Regions from separate parts of the Homo sapiens genome. Here region 1 is linked to region 2. Evidence: fine-mapped expression QTL. A gene starts in region 2. The other region holds a variant in brackets. All regions are shown on one strand. Distances are from middle to middle. Region 1 overlaps ART4 (ADP-ribosyltransferase 4 (inactive) (Dombrock blood group)). Region 2 holds the start of C12orf60 (chromosome 12 open reading frame 60).

Evidence for each region. PIP is the estimated chance that this variant, and not a neighbour inherited with it, causes the effect.
Region 1: its variant is fine-mapped to the expression of C12orf60 in spleen (GTEx, PIP 0.99).

Annotation. Positions count from the first base shown.
Region 1 is chr12:14,826,611-14,831,962 of GRCh38, reverse strand. It overlaps ART4 (ADP-ribosyltransferase 4 (inactive) (Dombrock blood group)), which reads left to right. Exons shown (of 3, transcript NM_021071.4): 3 at 2,501-5,352. The coding sequence ends at 2,592. Among named protein-coding and RNA genes, the nearest start is that of ART4, 14 kb to the left of the region's middle. The variant C/G (reference allele first, on the strand shown) is at 2,545.
Region 2 is chr12:14,801,309-14,806,694 of GRCh38, reverse strand. C12orf60 (chromosome 12 open reading frame 60) reads right to left here and starts at 3,025. Exons shown (of 2, transcript NM_175874.4): 1 at 2,944-3,025. It overlaps WBP11 (WW domain binding protein 11), which reads left to right and starts at 3,217. Exons shown (of 12, transcript NM_016312.3): 1 at 3,217-3,343; 2 at 5,267-5,375. The coding sequence starts at 5,312. It overlaps SMCO3 (single-pass membrane protein with coiled-coil domains 3), which reads left to right. Exons shown (of 2, transcript NM_001013698.2): 2 at 1-2,045. The coding sequence starts at 15. The coding sequence ends at 692. RefSeq lists an enhancer at 2,682-2,921.

The sequences.
Region 1 (5,352 bases), 25 kb before region 2:
CACTGGAAGTGAAAAGTGAGGGAAAAAGAAGAGTGAAGAATGACTCCAAGGTTTGGCTAGAGTAACTGAAAGGATGGAGGTGGCACTCACTGAGATGGAGAAGCCTGGGGATGGAGTAGATTTAAGAGCAGGAGTTTGGTATTTGACATGTTATATCTGAGCTGTGCAATAGTAACCCAAGCAGAGATGTTGAGTGGACAGTTGATGCACAAGTGTAGAATTCCGAGTGACCCAGGATGGAAAGATAAATTTGAGGTCAGTGGGTTATGGGTGGTATTTAAAGCCAAGAGACTGGATGAGCTCCCCACAAAGGTGTATAAATAAAGGAGAGAAAATGTCCAAGGATCAAACCTCAGGACACTCCCATTTTAAAAGGTCAAGTACAAAGAAGATGGAGAGGCCAGGTGTGATGGCTCACACCTATAATCCCAGCACTCTGGGAGGCCGAGGTAGGTGGACTGCTTGAGCTCAGGAGTTCGAGACCAGCCTGGGCAATGTGGTAAAACCCCGTCTCTACCAAAAATACAAAAAAAAAATAGCCAGGCATGGTGGTGTGCACCTGTAGACCCAGCTACTTGGGAGGCTGAGGTGGAAGAATCACTTGAGCTGATGTTGCAGTGAGCAGAGATCACACTGCTGTACTCTAGCCTGGGTGACAGAGCAAGACCCATCTCAAAAAAAAAAAAAAAAATGGAGAAGGAATGGCCAGTGAGGGAGGAGAAAATTGATAGAGTTGGTGTCCTAAGAGCAAAATGAAGAGTAAGTATCAAGGAGGATGGAGTGATTCACTACCATAAATATGGTTGATAGGTCAAATACAGTGAGGACTGAGAATTGACATTACATTCCAGGAAGCTCAACATATAATCTCTTAAATCAGACTCTCTAGGTTAAATACTGGCTCTGTCACTTACTGTGTGGCCTAACAGAGACCCTTAAGCTCTCTAAATACTGGGAAAGGGTGGGACTGGAAATCCTTGTGATCTTTAGCCTCAGTGAAGAGGAAAAAAAAACAAAAATCGTTTGAGAACCATTCTAATGATTGACCTGCTAAAGTGGTATTAAGGCTTCCTAAGTCTCTGTAGGGATTCATATAATTTGATTTTAACACAAACTTTGACAAAAGTTTAGAAAGACATATGCTCTTAATTTTCCTTGCCAACTCTTATTGGTGAAAATTGAGGTCTTGAAAATTACTGTATCTACTCCAGCTTGGTGACAGAGTGAGAACTCCAACTCAAAAAAATAAGACAGAAATTACTGTATATATATATATATATATATATATATATATATATATATATATATATATACATACATACAGTACACACATACACACACAGAGTAATTTCTGTCTTTTCTGTCTTGGAATTTCTACTTGTATACACACACACACACACACACACACACACACACACACACACACTCCTATATAGAAATTCCAAAAAACTAAAAAATGTATATATTGTGTGAAAATAGTAGAAATGTATTTCTCCCTCATCTGGTTATCCTATCAAACAATATGAGCAAATATTGAGGCAATTAGAGTTGAATCTCTTCCTCCCAGAAACATCTTTTCTACCTTAAACAATAGTGAAAACTGGCTGCAAAGAGATTCCAGTCTTTATTTAGACTATTTTTTACAGGGTTTCCATCTCCCATCTCATTTCAGTCCCCACCCCATTATATGGCCAATTATTAGTTATATCTGACAATATTTTTTTTTATTTTCCAGTTTTGCTTCCACACCTAACTGGCTGCTAACCTGTCCCACATTTCCTGTGAAAGGTGTATATGTGTAGTTAGAACACACACACACACACACACACACACACACACACACTCCAAACAGGATTGTGTGAATATTTCTTGCTCACCTTGTAATGAAAAATTCTATGGATGGACATGTAATACACAGACAAACAGGTTAGTGGTTAAGAATGCAGAATTGAGACAAACTGGCCAAGTTTGAATGGTGCCTATACTATTTACAAGATGTGTGACACTGGCAAGTTTTTTCTCATCTCTGTGTCACAATCTCATCAAGTAAAAACCAAGGATATTGAGAATAAAAATCTCATAGGTTTGTTGTGAGGCTTAAGTTAATATATAGCAAGGGCTCGAAATAGATCCTAGCACAAAATCAGCATTCAGTCTGTGTTAACTTTCATAATGGTGATGAAGATGATGATAATTAAGATGGGGATAATGCTAACAGTGATTATGCTGCTGGTGATGATAAAGATGGAAAATTAGATCTCTACCACCAGCTGGCTGGGTTACCTGGGAGTACATCTTTTAACCTCTTGGTGTCTGTTTCATCATCTGCAAAATAAGCAAGTTATGTTAGAAAAATCTAAAATAATGTGTTTTAAGTAGCTAACTTCAAATGTTTTTATTAGGAATTTTCTAAGTTAAGTAAGTGGATCAATGGATAGATGAGGTAGTTTTAAAAAAAACTCTGCTACCTAAAATATTTCCTTTGTTTTGTTTTTTACAGCTTCCAGCAAGAAATGCATCCCTGATCCTATAGCTATTGCATCT[C/G]TCTCCTTTTTGACCAGTGTCATCATCTTTTCCAAAAGCAGAGTATAAAGAAATCTTGTGGCTCCTTTTATTTAAAAAAAATATTTAAATAAAATCTTTTTTATTGGCCTTTTGGCTAGAAATGGACATTTATTTTCCAGGAAGGATGATCCCATCATACTTCTGCTGAAACCAGTGCATGGCCTCCTCTTTGCTAATTCTCTTATGCCTTTCCTTGTACCCCTTTGCCTTATTTCAATCTGGGCACCCTAAGTACTCTTGGGGAAATCACTCTGCCCAGCTAGCAACTGATGCAGAGCTGGCTCAGCCCACTGACTGTGATTGGCCTGTAACTCAGGCCTTAGCCAATCAGTATATTTCTTCTTCATGGACACAAAGATTCATGCTGGAATAGAAAATGATCCAATCAGAGCCTGTGAGATACAATCAGGGTACTTTTGTGGAATTGCAATTGGAAATAGAATGGGAGCTTCTTTTCTGAATGGATATTAATGAAAGCAGGGTAGGAGCTTATAGCTGCCAGCAAAGATCCCGCCACCAGGAGAGGAGACCCCATCTCCTTGAGAAAGGATCTAACACAACAAAGGAAGAGCTGATAAGTGAAAAGAAACTGAGACCTGATGAGAATGTATAAGCCTCTGGATCCAACTTTGCCTAAAGCTGAATACTACAAGATTTTTCATTACATAAATCAATAATTTATGTTTTTGCTTGCATAATTTGAATTAGATTTTCTATGTCAAGCATCAAGCAGTTGAAGTTCCAACGAATACAAGCACTCTTCCTTATTTTTTTTAATTTAGTTATTCTAAATAGGAACAAATCAAAGAAGATTAAATTAGAAAGCAAAGGACAAATTCTTCACCAAACAGAAAAGCTTTGAACCCCAGAGATTAACCAAGGTGTGAATTTTCTTCAGAGATTTTTTATGAGCATTCAAGATTAAGCTAGTATGGCCTCAGATGAGAAGACACATGGAAACTTGAGAAATAAAAGGGAAAGTTAATGAAAGATGTTAGTGAAATTTCATTCACCAGCAGTAATGGGTGTTCATGCATGTTCCTAAGACATTACAAAAGTTAAAATTTAAACTCATATGTTAATTCATAGAGAACTTGATGGCAAATTTAAGTCTTCATAGCAAATTTAAATATTAGGAAAACATGAGGGTATGTGTGAAGGTTAACAGAGAGTATGAGAGAAAAAAACACTGATTACAAACAAATATCAGCAATATAGCGAGGTCTCATTACATGTAAACTAGTACATGCAAAGAAGTATAAATTGTTGAATTGTATAGCTGGAAATGTCCTCTAACGCTTCCCTCAGGTAGTAATTTAGGTAGCGACATAAGGGATTATTTAACCCGATCACGATCACTGAAGACCCTGGTATCAGGCTAAATGGAGTAAAGATGAGGGCTAGCTCTATAATTTTGGATTTTGAAAGTCCATGCTCCTTATCCCTTTTAAGATTTGGATAAGAAACAGCAAAACTGAAAATCGGTCCATCTATTTACTCTCCATAGGACTTCCTGAATGGCCTGTGTCATGATCAAAGAAATGGAATGGGGAATAAGCTACATAAAATTACCTGGCAGGGAGTTCAGGCATCTCTGTACTATCATTCTTTAAATTGGGATTTGAAACTAACAGGGCCAAATCACCTCTGTCACCTAGTTGCAGTAGCCTCTACAGTCAATAAAGGAAAGAATTTCTGCCAGGCATGGTGGCTCACCCCTGTAATCCCAGCACTTTGGGAGGCCGAGGAGGACGGATCACGAGGTCAGGAGTTCAAGACCAGCCTGGCCAGCATGGTGAAACCCCGTCTCTACTACAAATACAAAAATTAGCCAGGCATGGTGGCACGCACCTGTAATCCCAGCTACTTGGGAGGCTGAGGCAGGAAAATTGCCTAAACCCAGGAGGCGGAGGTAGTGCAGTGAGCCAAGTTCACACCACTGCACTCCAGCCTGGGCAACAGAGTGAGACTCGATCTCAAAAAAAGAAAAAAAGAAAGAATTTCTACAAACAGACAATTTATGTGACTTGCATAGGATAGGGTCTTTGGCAGTTTGGTGGCTACCTAGTAGAGAGTCCTGGGGACATGGCTCTGGGAGCAAGCTTTTCCAGTGAGCATCGATGAGTCAGTAATGACATGCTATGTTGGTAAAAGCCACCCAACATCTTAAGTACATTTTTCCTGTGCCATATAAATGCATGTATTGAGCCATACTGTGTACAAAGCACTTTGGGGATTAAAAGTTAAGAACACTAGGCCAGATCTCTCATGAGTTTACAATCTCTTAGGAGAAATTAAGAACATAAAGCAAGCCACAAGTGAAATGCCAAAAAAAAAAAAGGCAAAAATCAAGTTTTCTGTTCATAACAATTCAAAAGAAAGATTTCTTCCAACTGAGGCAAGAAGAGACACCCGGAAGGCTTTAAGTAAGAGGCTGCATTTGAACCAGCCGTTAGGGCTCTAGGCTGGGAGAAGGGGTGAGCAGAAGGAGAAAAAAACAAGAAAGAGTATGTGCCAAGTGCGTAGTGCCCAAAACAAGGCCAAATATTAAATGCTTGGAGCTGAGAGAAAAATGTGATTCCTCTGGCCTATGGTTAGATAAAGCTTTCTATCAGAGATGATGTTTTACTTAGAGGAAAGCAGAAAATAGAAGCGAATACGGAATGATCGATGTATGTACAGCATAAGGTCAGGGAGCAGATAGGTCTGGCAGAGAGTGAGGGGTAATGTGGGCTGGAGAGGAAATTGGAAGCCACTCAGTGAAGCTAAAAAGTCAGCCAAAAGCAT
Region 2 (5,386 bases):
ATCATATTGGAAATATGGCCCAAAGTGACTTCCTTTACCCAGAGAACCCAAAAAGGCGGGAAGAAGTAAATCGTCTTCACCAGCAGCTTCTTGATTGCTTATCTGACAGCTTCGATGTCACCAATAAGCTGACTGAGGTTCTAAATATGCACTTGGGGTGCAGGCTGGCCTCCATTGAGATGAAAAGAGATGGGACCATCAAAGAAAACTGTGACCTCATCATCCAAGCCATTATGAAAATCCAAAAGGAATTGCAGAAGGTTGATGAAGCACTAAAAGATAAGCTAGAGCCAACCCTCTATAGAAAACTTCAGGATATTAAGGAAAAGGAAACAGACAAAATTGCAATAGTGCAAAAGGTTATTTCGGTCATCCTGGGAGAAGCTACATCTGCAGCCAGTGCAGTCGCTGTTAAACTTGTGGGCTCAAATGTCACAACTGGCATAATTAACAAGTTGGTCACTGTGTTAGCTCAAATTGGTGCTTCTCTCCTTGGTAGTATTGGAGTTGCTGTTCTTGGCCTTGGCATAGATATGATTGTCCGTGCCATCCTGGGAGCAGTGGAAAAAACACAGCTTCAAGCAGCCATCAAAAGTTATGAGAAGCATCTGGTGGAGTTCAAATCAGCCTCAGAAAAATATAATCATGCCATTACTGAGGTCATCAATACAGTGAAACACCAAATGAAATGAACAGCCGTTTTATTTGCCACTGAAGTGTTTTTCTGCTTCCTTTTCAGTAACAGTGTTTGCTTCTTTGATTAGGTTCATTTTCTATAGGCTTCCAATATGGACTTAAATAAGATAAACAATTTGGAGAGGGAAACTGGAGATGCCAAGACTAGATGACTAGATGAGTTTTGAGTCAACAATGCCTGGATCAGCTGATGCTAGACCCTGTGAGGTAAAAAAATTTTCTCCCTGGATGTTTTCACACCCTGCTCTACCAGATCAACATTGGGGTAAATGCTATCGTAGAGTAGCAAGTATAGGGGTTACTTTTCTCTTTTCTAATTTCAGTAAAATTCTTAAATTTCACATTGAATGCAGAGACTTTCATTTCTACCACCAGCTTCAAACATCATTTAGTTATAAGGGGACATACTCAGTAACTTCTGCCTAGACACAAACTCTAGGCCTTCGAATGAGACAGAAATACTACCATATTTTTGACCATCAGAGTAAATCTGGTTTTCTGTAAACTAGAAGAGACTGAAAAATGGTTTGTAACAATGTGCTTCAATTAGGACAGGAAGCTGATCTGTAAACGTCTACTGATTACACAATGTAAACCGGATGGATTTGAAAATGGTAAAAATCAAAACTAAAAACATCAAGGTCCTGTTTCAGTCACTGCAATCAACCCTGACCAACTGTGATAATTAAATATCGCTCAAGTGAATGTTCAAACACTGAAACATTTAGAAGACAAGAAAGCAAAACACAGCTACACATATTGCATTTAGGATGCAGAATAGAAGGTCACTACTCAAAGCATTTGTCATTTAAAAGAAAGTCATAATTTATTATAAGCTTTCAGAAAAAAGAATATAATTTCATTTTCAACACTAGCAAAAAGGAGGCAGCTGCCTTTGCTACATGACGCATTAGGTGGGCCATTTCACTAATTACCTGATTTTAGAAAACGCCAAAGGCTATGGAAGCCTATTAATGGTTCCGCTGAATCTCTGCAGATGTGTTTGTTTTCTAAATCCTTTGCCAACCAATAATTCCCATGAGGACTCTTTTAGTCTATACTGACAAAATTATTAATATGCTGTTGATGCCAGACTGTGTTTGTTATAGTTGATTCTCCCATCCAAGTACAAGAAATGTATTGAAATAAAAACTGCTCAGCATATCTTAAAAATAGTAGCTACATATAAAATTTTAGCTACATGAAAGACTTTAATATTTCCAACATACACTGTTTTCTCTTTCTCTTCTTGCATTGTTTTTCAAAACGAGTTGCAAAACTATGATCACTAATGTGTTAGGAAAGAAAAAAAACTAGTTGCAAAACATTACAACTTAGCTCACCTTCGCAGTTCAAGATTATTTTCTTTTTTATGTACTACCTGGTTTATCAGCTTTAACCTACAATATCTCGTCATTGCTTTCTGACACTCAAATTCAGTCTAAAATCAAATCAAGAATTTCCTAACACAAAGGTAAGTTTAGGTATAGGACCGATCTTATACCTTCAAGGGCAGTTTAAAGATTCTGCTAAAAATTAGTATGTATCTCCATCAATATTTTGAAATATTTATAACTGGTGGTAAGAATAGCCTTCCTACATGGGATAGTCAGGTTAAGATTAGAAATAACCAAGCGTATCCTCTAAGATAGTTTTTTAAATGTTTAAACTTACCTTTAAGGGAAATAAGTGGGGGCTGACTCACGGAAAGAGGGGATAGAAGGTAGGGAAAGGGCGAAGGCTAGAGTTAAGTGAAGAATCCCGTACGTAGAGTGACATCATAGAGGACTTTTGGCTGGTGAAAAGACCAGTCGGGAATATAGCCAATATATATCAACCTTGCCACTCATATAACTTAAAACCGACTGCATATGTATCCCCGTATTTCTTCTTCAAAACACTACTAACAAATAATAAATCACCGCCCATATAAGCAATCTGCGACTCTAATACGGGTGCTAATTTATTTGTTCAGGTGGTCTACAAACGTTCTGTTCTGCCTGTCTATTAAATTTCCACACGTACTAGGCGCTCACATGGGATAACCTGATGCTTACAAAGCGGATTAAACTCAGTGGCAAATGTTATCTGGGTATTCGTTTACACACGGAGACACCCCTAAAGGATCGCACCTGCTTGGGTCATAAGAAACAGAAAAATGCAAAAACTAAGGTAATTCCAAAAGACAGAAAACGCAGAACGCTTCTTTATCTGCAGAATGTACCGTTCTCGGACGGCTCAACGTACCAGGCTCCCAGCAACTAAGTCAAGATGCCTCCAACTCGAGAGACAGGACCGTCAGCCACTCAGTTAGCAGCTATCTTCTTCTAATTCCTATTGTACTAGATGAGCGCAATGAGGCGGGCTCTTAGCCGACAACCAACCAATTGAGTATTGTATGGAACCGGAAGAGACTCTGGTCCTGGAATTCTTGGGTATTCTCTATGGTTCCAGGGTCAAGCGGCGCTAAGAGAAGGCGGGACAGAGGAATGGGAAATGACGTGAGGAGTGCGGAGGGGCGCGAGGTTTCAAGATGGCGGTAGCTGAGGGGTTGACCGAGAGACCCAGTTGAAGGCCTTTACGAAGTGAAAGAGGCCGGGAGTCGCCCCCTACCCGCTTCTCGTAGTCCTGGGAGCACAGCAGAAGTGTGAGTGTATTGAATTGATTTACTACTCTTCCTCACCTCTTTCGTCCCTTCCACGTCCCGCGCAGCGGCTTGGGGGACACCCAGCCCCTTTGCCCCGCTCCTCCTCTCCCTGGTTGAGGTCTCCCTGTTGCGGACTGGGCTATTCCTGGGCCTGGGGTGGCGCGGCGACCAGTGGTTGCGCGGTTGGCATCGCCCGGGTCGGTTGGGGCCGCTTCTTACGCACGTTGATTAGTAGCCTTAGGTTTGACGTCTTGTACCTCGAGTCATGGTCGGTCAGCCGTCGCTATGGTTTCGTCAGTTGCTGGTGTTGCCTCCTTTGGTGAACCTGGACCCTATCCCATTGAAGCTTCTTTGGCTGTTTAGAGTTATCCAACGCTTATTTGGCTTGATTTTCCAGTCGCCTCCGCTTGTAGACAAAAAACTAATCTGCAGACTTAAGCTCCAGTGTCTTCCGTAAAATTCTCTGTAATTCGTATCCGTTGTGTTTCATTTGTGGGGGAGGAGATTCAGAACATGAGCCTGAGGAAACTTGAGAAAGGAAAGCACAAAAAACGCAGGCAATCAAAGATGGGAGAGCTTGTATATGTACTGATTTTGCTTGTTTTCCTCCTTCCCTACCTCCTACTCCCTGCTGCTCTCCCACCCCCCTAACCCCCCCATCCCCAGTTTTTCTTAGAAGGAAACCACTTGACAGGGTGTATGGTAGCTAGGCCAGGAATATGGATCCATTATAAAGATTTTAGTTAAGTAGTGAGTCAAACATCACAGGATATTTTATTTGTAATCTCATTGTATCATCAGAGCTTTGTTATAAAGTAATTGATGTCCCCATTTTTTAGATGAGGAAGCTAAAAATCAGAGCCTTTGATACCGCTGTCTTGAAGTAATTGCCACCAGAACAGCTGTGAAACATCTGGCTTTCTGAAACATCTGGCTTTCGGGGCAGTTGGACACTTGGTGAAAGAGACATTAACTGTAATAAACTGGGCTGACAAAATCTTCCCTTTCTTACCTTTAAAAAGTGTCTACTTGCAAAAGGAAGCAAATTTGTCCGCCTTTATTACTGGAAAGACTGCGCTTCAAAAAATTAAGCCCCATTATTTTGGAATAAGAGGAAGAAGTCATGTAATAGGGTACTGTGTTAATAAAAGTTTTAGCTTACAAAATATTTTTTCCTCAAACAAAAATAAGTATTCCCTTTAATTACCTTAAGAAATATATATTGGGAGTCAGGTCTTAGTAAGAAAAATATGTGTCTTAATATTTAAGTTTTGGGGAGCTCTCAGTATAGCACTAATTTCAAATATTTGCATTTTTAGTTGTGTTTTGAACTCTTGAGAGTCAAGCATTATATCTGAACTAGAACTGAATCTGAATTAAATATGCTTAAATTAATGAGTTTTTAGTGTCTTAGAAGTATTGAGAATGTACAGCATACATGCCAAGAAAAACCATGGAGAGAGGCAAAGGTGAGGTATGTGTTTTGAGCCTAGATCCATTACCCCCATTCCCTTCTTATTCTTCTTTTACAATTACATGTTAATAAAGGGAGGTTATAGAAGAAGGACTAATGAATTCTGATGTTCATGGTTTGTGCCATATCGTTAAAGCATTTTCTAGTTGTTTTTATCAGTTGACAAAGTCAGTGCTGTGATCCATAAGAAAAAAGCTAAACTGATGACTTGAGGATATTCAAAGTGGTCTTCACACTCATCACATTTCTGAAGAATGATAGAGATCTAAATTTTCATGGTCAAGAAAGGTGATGCCATCTTTCTTGGACATTAAAGTCAAAACTAAGGAAAGAACAGTCTCACAGAATTTCTAATTAAAGGAATTTTTTTTCAGAGATTGGTAGGGACTAGAAAAAGGAAGAAATACATTTAGGAGATATAAGCTATTTCTTTGTCTTCACCTTCACAGGTTTTTCTTTTTTTAATGAACAAGTAAACCATACAAATTGTCAACATGGGACGGAGATCTACATCATCCACCAAGAGTGGAAAATTTATGAACCCCACAGACCAAGCCCGTAAGTGTCCA